2 separate regions of the Homo sapiens genome follow, and region 2 is reported to be linked to region 1. The links are microRNA targets in miRTarBase. Many come from high-throughput screens and were not tested one by one. Region 1 holds a microRNA gene; the other region holds the end of a gene's coding sequence.
Evidence for each region. The annotated mature microRNA hsa-miR-3134 reads UGAUGGAUAAAAGACUACAUAUU and lies in region 1 at 2,285-2,307, opposite strand. An mRNA with a match to its seed (bases 2 to 7 or 8) in the 3' UTR can be bound and repressed. Matches are read on the target gene's strand: a 7mer-m8 pairs with bases 2 to 8, a 7mer-A1 pairs with bases 2 to 7 and ends in A, and an 8mer does both.

Region 2: miRTarBase lists MAP2K4 as a target of hsa-miR-3134. Seed matches in the 3' UTR shown: 7mer-A1 at 995-1,001 and 7mer-A1 at 2,256-2,262.

What each region holds. Positions count from the first base shown.
Region 1 is chr3:15,695,021-15,698,440 of GRCh38, forward strand. It overlaps MIR3134 (microRNA 3134), which reads right to left and starts at 2,351; the gene lies at 2,278-2,351. It overlaps ANKRD28 (ankyrin repeat domain 28), which reads right to left. Exons shown (of 28, transcript NM_001349278.2): 15 at 1,114-1,225; 16 at 168-194. It also overlaps a transcript of BTD not described here.
Region 2 is chr17:12,140,394-12,143,813 of GRCh38, forward strand. MAP2K4 (mitogen-activated protein kinase kinase 4) reads left to right here. Exons shown (of 11, transcript NM_003010.4): 11 at 754-3,420. The coding sequence ends at 867. Among named protein-coding and RNA genes, the nearest start is that of MIR744, 60 kb to the left of the region's middle.

The sequences.
Region 1 (3,420 bases):
CACCAAGTAAACATCTTCCTTTCCTCTGTACACATGATTTCTGTCACCGTCTTTGTGCCTAATATGTAAAAACACTTTCAGCTCTAATGAGAGCAAACAGATAAACATAACTGGTAGGAGGGAACTGACCAATACTAATTGGTGGGAGGGAATTGACTAATACTTACAACATCTAGAGGAGTTTCACTTGCAATCTGAAATAAAAGTCAAAACAAAAATATTTAGCTTGGGAAGTATTCATCTATATTAAGTCTCAACTTATATAGAGCTTTGCTAACTTTTACCCTAAACCCGTGCTTCCTTTGGCTCCAAAAAATTAGGTGTTTTGAATAAACAATTTTATATCACAACAGACGTCAAATCTATATACATAGGTCTAAAATTTTGGTGTGAATATCCATAACGTAGGAAAATAGTTATTTTTGTAGCAGGGCTCTAAGTGCTATATTAAATTGTCAACCTCCCTTTTCTTGTTTTATATCTACGCTCGTTGAATTTTATTTCCCCTTGAAGGGAAGCAAAGTTTAATGTAATTTATAAGGTAAGTCTAAATAAGAGCATCTTTAACCTAAAGTATCTGTTACACACATGAATATCTTTTCCTTGACTTTCCTTCTGGTTTGGTAAATTTGGGTGAATGGTGGTATTCTATTCCAGAATCAGACCACAGCAGAAATAAAAACGTCCTCTGCAGAAGTGGAGTCTCCCTTGTTAGGAGGGGTTGTGAAATAAATGTGCCTTTTGGAATTCCCTAAATATATGGGGGAGATATTCCTTTCACAGGGACTTTTATTTCTCACAAAAGACACAGTTATAGTTTTTTAGAAACTTATGAGGAATATTAATTTAAAGGGGCAGGAGAAGTAAATAGTGTAGACATGAACATGGGGTAATCAGTAGCCCTCTTCAGAGATCTAATTTTCTCCTTTTTTAAAAGGAAAAGAGAATGAGATATATCTTACTAAAGCAAGTGTGAATTTAAGAGGTATATAAATTCTGAAAATGTTAAAAAACAAAATGGAATTTGTTCCTTGATCCATTTATTCTCATTTTTGTTACATTATTAGACTATAAACTCCCATTAGGTCTTTCACAAGAATTCAGGAATCTTACCAGCTGAAGACATAGACGGTGACCATAAGCAGCTGAATAATGAACTGCGTTGTATCCTTGCTTATCACGGATCCCTGGATTTGCATCGTTTCTTAATAAGTATTCCAGGCACCTATATACAACAACAACAACATACTGAAAATCCTAAATCCTGCATATTAACCAATGATAAAAAGAGACTGAAATTAAAAACTGACAATTTTTCTTATACTTGAGTAATATAAAAATCATAAATGTATTACACTATAAAAATGTCATTTAAATGACACTGACTAAAGTATCATAAAAATGCAAATGAAACATTCATGAGAATCTTCTTGATTCAAAGTGGATACCTCAAAAGTCTGTCAGACAGCTTTTTTTTTCATATGTGAAGGCTATCTTTTACACAGTCTCTATCTATACCACCACCTATTCTACTAAACAATGTTGGATAGGATTAAACTTTTCGTGGTGGTGAGTACATAATATTGGCAATATTACTATTTATCTATCTAGAACACAGAATGAGTAAATTTTTCATCATGAAGCTCAAGAAAGGATGTTAAACAAAACAAAACCTCAAGAAACCAAGGTCAGAACTCAATGAATCTGAATTAGAGGACTAAGAAGAGGTATATAAACAGAGTAAAGTGGTAAGAAGGTATCCATAAGAGATACTTCATTTCATTTCTGTGATAATAAAATATGAGGAAAATAATTTTAAAAAACACTATATGTAAAACCACTATGGAAAACTGTATGGAGATTCCTTAAGGAACAAAAAGTAACACTACCATTTGATCCAGCAATCCCATTACTGAGTATCTACCCAGGGGAAAAGAAGTCATTATTTGAAAAAGGCACTTGCACATGCATGTTTATAGCAGTACAATTCGCAATTGCAAAAATATGAAACAAGTCTATTTAGGCTATCTATCAACGAACGAGTGCGTAAAGAAAATGTGGTATATATACACCATGGAATACTATTCAGACATAGAAAGGAACAAAATAATAGCATTTGCAGCAACCTGGAGTTGGAGATCATTATTCTAAGTGAAGCAATTCAGGGATGGAAAACGAATATCGTATGTTCTCGCTCATAAGTGGGAGCTATGAGGAGACGCGAAGGCACAAAAATGATAGAATGGACTTTGGGGACTCAGGGGGAAGTTCCCAAATTGTACCCAATATGTAGTCTTTTATCCATCATATTTTACTCCATGTGAGGGATAAAAGACTACACATTGGATACAGTGTACATTGCTCAGGGGACCAGTGCACCAAAATCTCAGAAATCATCAATAAAGAACTTATCTATGTAACCAAAAACCACCTGTTCCCCAGGAACTATTGAAATAAAATACAATAAAAATAAATTTAATCATGTGTTTGTTTTTTTTTTGCCATTGGTTCTGTTTATGTGATGGATTACGTGTATTGATTTGCGTACGTTGAACCAGCCTTGCATCCCAGGGATGAAGCCGAGTTGATTGTGGTGGGTAAGCTTTTTGATATGCTGCTGGATTCAGTTTGCCAGTATTTTATTGAGGATTTTCGCATTGATGTTCATCAGGGATATTGGCCTAAAATTCTCAAGGCTTTGGTATCAGGATGATGCTGGCCTCATAAAATGAGTTAGGGAGGATTCCCTCTTTTTCTATTGTTTGGAATAGTTTCAGAAGGAATGGTACCAGCTCCTCTTTGTACCTCTGGTAGAATTCGGCTGTGAATCCATCTGGTCCTGGACTTTTATTTGTTTGGTAGGCTATTAATTATTGCCTCAATTTCAGAACCTGTTATTTGTCTATTCAGAGATTCAACTTCTTCCTGGTTTAGTCTTGGGAGGGTGTATATGTCCAAGAATTTATCCCTTTCTTCTAGATTTTCTAGTTTATTTGCGTAGAGGTGTTTATAGTATTCTCTGATTGTAGTTTGTATTTCTTTGAGCTCGGTGGTGATATTCCCTTTATGTGTCTATTTGAATCTTCTCTTTTCTTCTTCATTAGTCTTGCTAGCGGTCTGTCTGATTATCTCAATAGATGCAGAAAAGGCCTTCGACAAAATTCAACAGCACTTCATGCTAAAAACTCTCAATAAACTAGGTATTGATGGAATGTATCTCAAAATAGTAAGGGCTAGTTATGACAAACCCACAGCCAATATCATACTGAATGGGCAAAAACTGGAAGCATTCCCTTTGAAAACTGGCACAAGACAGGGATGCCCTCTCTCACCACTCCTATTCAACATAGTGTTGGAAGTTCTGGCTAGGGCAATCAGGCAAGAGAAAGAAATAAAGGGTATTCAATTAGGAAAAGAGGA
Region 2 (3,420 bases), not on the chromosome of region 1:
AAAAGATCCATTTGTTTGTCACATTTAACTACTAGCTCTTCAAGGATGTTGTGACAAACTTATATCACAGTCCACCAATGACTGTAAAAATATCTAGTCAACATACTTAGTCTGTAAAAGAAAACTGTTGCTAGAGATGGAGTTTTAAAAGGTGGGTTAGTGAAGCAGATACTGGGACCCTGGCTCTGGAGAGTACAGGGAAGAAGCTCCTGGGGCAAATTTCTCTTGGGCCTCTTTTGGTCAAAAGAATTACAGCCTTTTTGTTAAAAGGTCAAAAGAAGAGGTCAAAAGGATTGCGACCTTTTTGTAAAAAGGTCCTCCTGTTGTATATAGGAGAAATGGAGGTTGAGATTTATATTGGTGTCCCAAGAGGAATAGTGACTGGCATTTGCGTCATTCTTCTTAGCTCTTAGATGGTGTGGTGGAGGCTCCAGCTATGTTTTGTGCTGAGTGACAACTTGGCTGTCTTCCTCAACAAACACTCCCTGGTATACAGATGAGTTTCCAGACCTCACTGCCAAGGTGGCACCTTCAGATCATTACCACGTATCCTCTCTCTAGGCATGCCCATGCCCATTAGCATATCTGCATGGAATAAAGGCTGTACTCGCCTCTCTGAACTTGTAGTGTTGCGGTATTTCATAGCTATGTGTGGTTGGGAGCCTGGAGTTCTATGTTCTATAGAAATTGGAAAATGTTCAGTTTGGGCTGTCATACAAACTTTTGACTTTTTTGTTTTCAATTTTCTTGCAGAAACATCCCTTTATTTTGATGTATGAAGAACGTGCCGTTGAGGTCGCATGCTATGTTTGTAAAATCCTGGATCAAATGCCAGCTACTCCCAGCTCTCCCATGTATGTCGATTGATATCGCTGCTACATCAGACTCTAGAAAAAAGGGCTGAGAGGAAGCAAGACGTAAAGAATTTTCATCCCGTATCACAGTGTTTTTATTGCTCGCCCAGACACCATGTGCAATAAGATTGGTGTTCGTTTCCATCATGTCTGTATACTCCTGTCACCTAGAACGTGCATCCTTGTAATACCTGATTGATCACACAGTGTTAGTGCTGGTCAGAGAGACCTCATCCTGCTCTTTTGTGATGAACATATTCATGAAATGTGGAAGTCAGTACGATCAAGTTGTTGACTGTGATTAGATCACATCTTAAATTCATTTCTAGACTCAAAACCTGGAGATGCAGCTACTGGAATGGTGTTTTGTCAGACTTCCAAATCCTGGAAGGACACAGTGATGAATGTACTATGTCTGAACATAGAAACTCGGGCTTGAGTGAGAAGAGCTTGCACAGCCAACGAGACACATTGCCTTCTGGAGCTGGGAGACAAAGGAGGAATTTACTTTCTTCACCAAGTGCAATAGATTACTGATGTGATATTCTGTTGCTTTACAGTTACAGTTGATGTTTGGGGATCGATGTGCTCAGCCAAATTTCCTGTTTGAAATATCATGTTAAATTAGAATGAATTTATCTTTACCAAAAACCATGTTGCGTTCAAAGAGGTGAACATTAAAATATAGAGACAGGACAGAATGTGTTCTTTTCTCCTTTACCAGTCCTATTTTTCAATGGGAAGACTCAGGAGTCTGCCACTTGTCAAAGAAGGTGCTGATCCTAAGAATTTTTCATTCTCAGAATTCGGTGTGCTGCCAACTTGATGTTCCACCTGCCACAAACCACCAGGACTGAAAGAAGAAAACAGTACAGAAGGCAAAGTTTACAGATGTTTTTAATTCTAGTATTTTATCTGGAACAACTTGTAGCAGCTATATATTTCCCCTTGGTCCCAAGCCTGATACTTTAGCCATCATAACTCACTAACAGGGAGAAGTAGCTAGTAGCAATGTGCCTTGATTGATTAGATAAAGATTTCTAGTAGGCAGCAAAAGACCAAATCTCAGTTGTTTGCTTCTTGCCATCACTGGTCCAGGTCTTCAGTTTCCGAATCTCTTTCCCTTCCCCTGTGGTCTATTGTCGCTATGTGACTTGCGCTTAATCCAATATTTTGCCTTTTTTCTATATCAAAAAACCTTTACAGTTAGCAGGGATGTTCCTTACCAAGGATTTTTAGCCCCAAATCTCTCATATTCGCTAGTGTTTAAAAGGCTAAGAATAGTGGGGCCCAGCCGATGTGGTAGGTGATAAAGAGGCATCTTTTCTAGAGACACATTGGACCAGATGAGGATCCGAAACGGCAGCCTTTACGTTCATCACCTGCTAGAACCTCTCGTAGTCCATCACCATTTCTTGGCATTGGAATTCTACTGGAAAAAAATACAAAAAGCAAAACAAAACCCTCAGCACTGTTACAAGAGGCCATTTAAGTATCTTGTGCTTCTTCACTTACCCATTAGCCAGGTTCTCATTAGGTTTTGCTTGGGCCTCCCTGGCACTGAACCTTAGGCTTTGTATGACAGTGAAGCAGCACTGTGAGTGGTTCAAGCACACTGGAATATAAAACAGTCATGGCCTGAGATGCAGGTGATGCCATTACAGAACCAAATCGTGGCACGTATTGCTGTGTCTCCTCTCAGAGTGACAGTCATAAATACTGTCAAACAATAAAGGGAGAATGGTGCTGTTTAAAGTCACATCCCTGTAAATTGCAGAATTCAAAAGTGATTATCTCTTTGATCTACTTGCCTCATTTCCCTATCTTCTCCCCCACGGTATCCTAAACTTTAGACTTCCCACTGTTCTGAAAGGAGACATTGCTCTATGTCTGCCTTCGACCACAGCAAGCCATCATCCTCCATTGCTCCCGGGGACTCAAGAGGAATCTGTTTCTCTGCTGTCAACTTCCCATCTGGCTCAGCATAGGGTCACTTTGCCATTATGCAAATGGAGATAAAAGCAATTCTGACTGTCCAGGAGCTAATCTGACCGTTCTATTGTGTGGATGACCACATAAGAAGGCAATTTTAGTGTATTAATCATAGATTATTATAAACTATAAACTTAAGGGCAAGGAGTTTATTACAATGTATCTTTATTAAAACAAAAGGGTGTATAGTGTTCACAAACTGTGAAAATAGTGTAAGAACTGTACATTGTGAGCTCTGGTTATTTTTCTCTTGTACCATAGAAAAATGTATAAAAATTATCAAAAAGCTAATGTGCAGGGATATTGCCTTATTTGTCTGTAAAAAATGGAGCTCAGTAACATAACTGCTTCTTGGAGCTTTGGAATATTTTATCCTGTATTCTTGTTTGAATTCCTCCTCTATTTAAGATATATACATGGAATCGAAGTGTTTATGTAATAGTTCTATCCTTTTGCCTGCAGGTCAGTTGTAATAAATCTAGGATGTGATGATGACTTTGTAATTTGATTTTCTGAAATCAGACCCTGAGAGGGGAAAATCTTAAAGTAAATTACATTAAATTATCTGTGCATT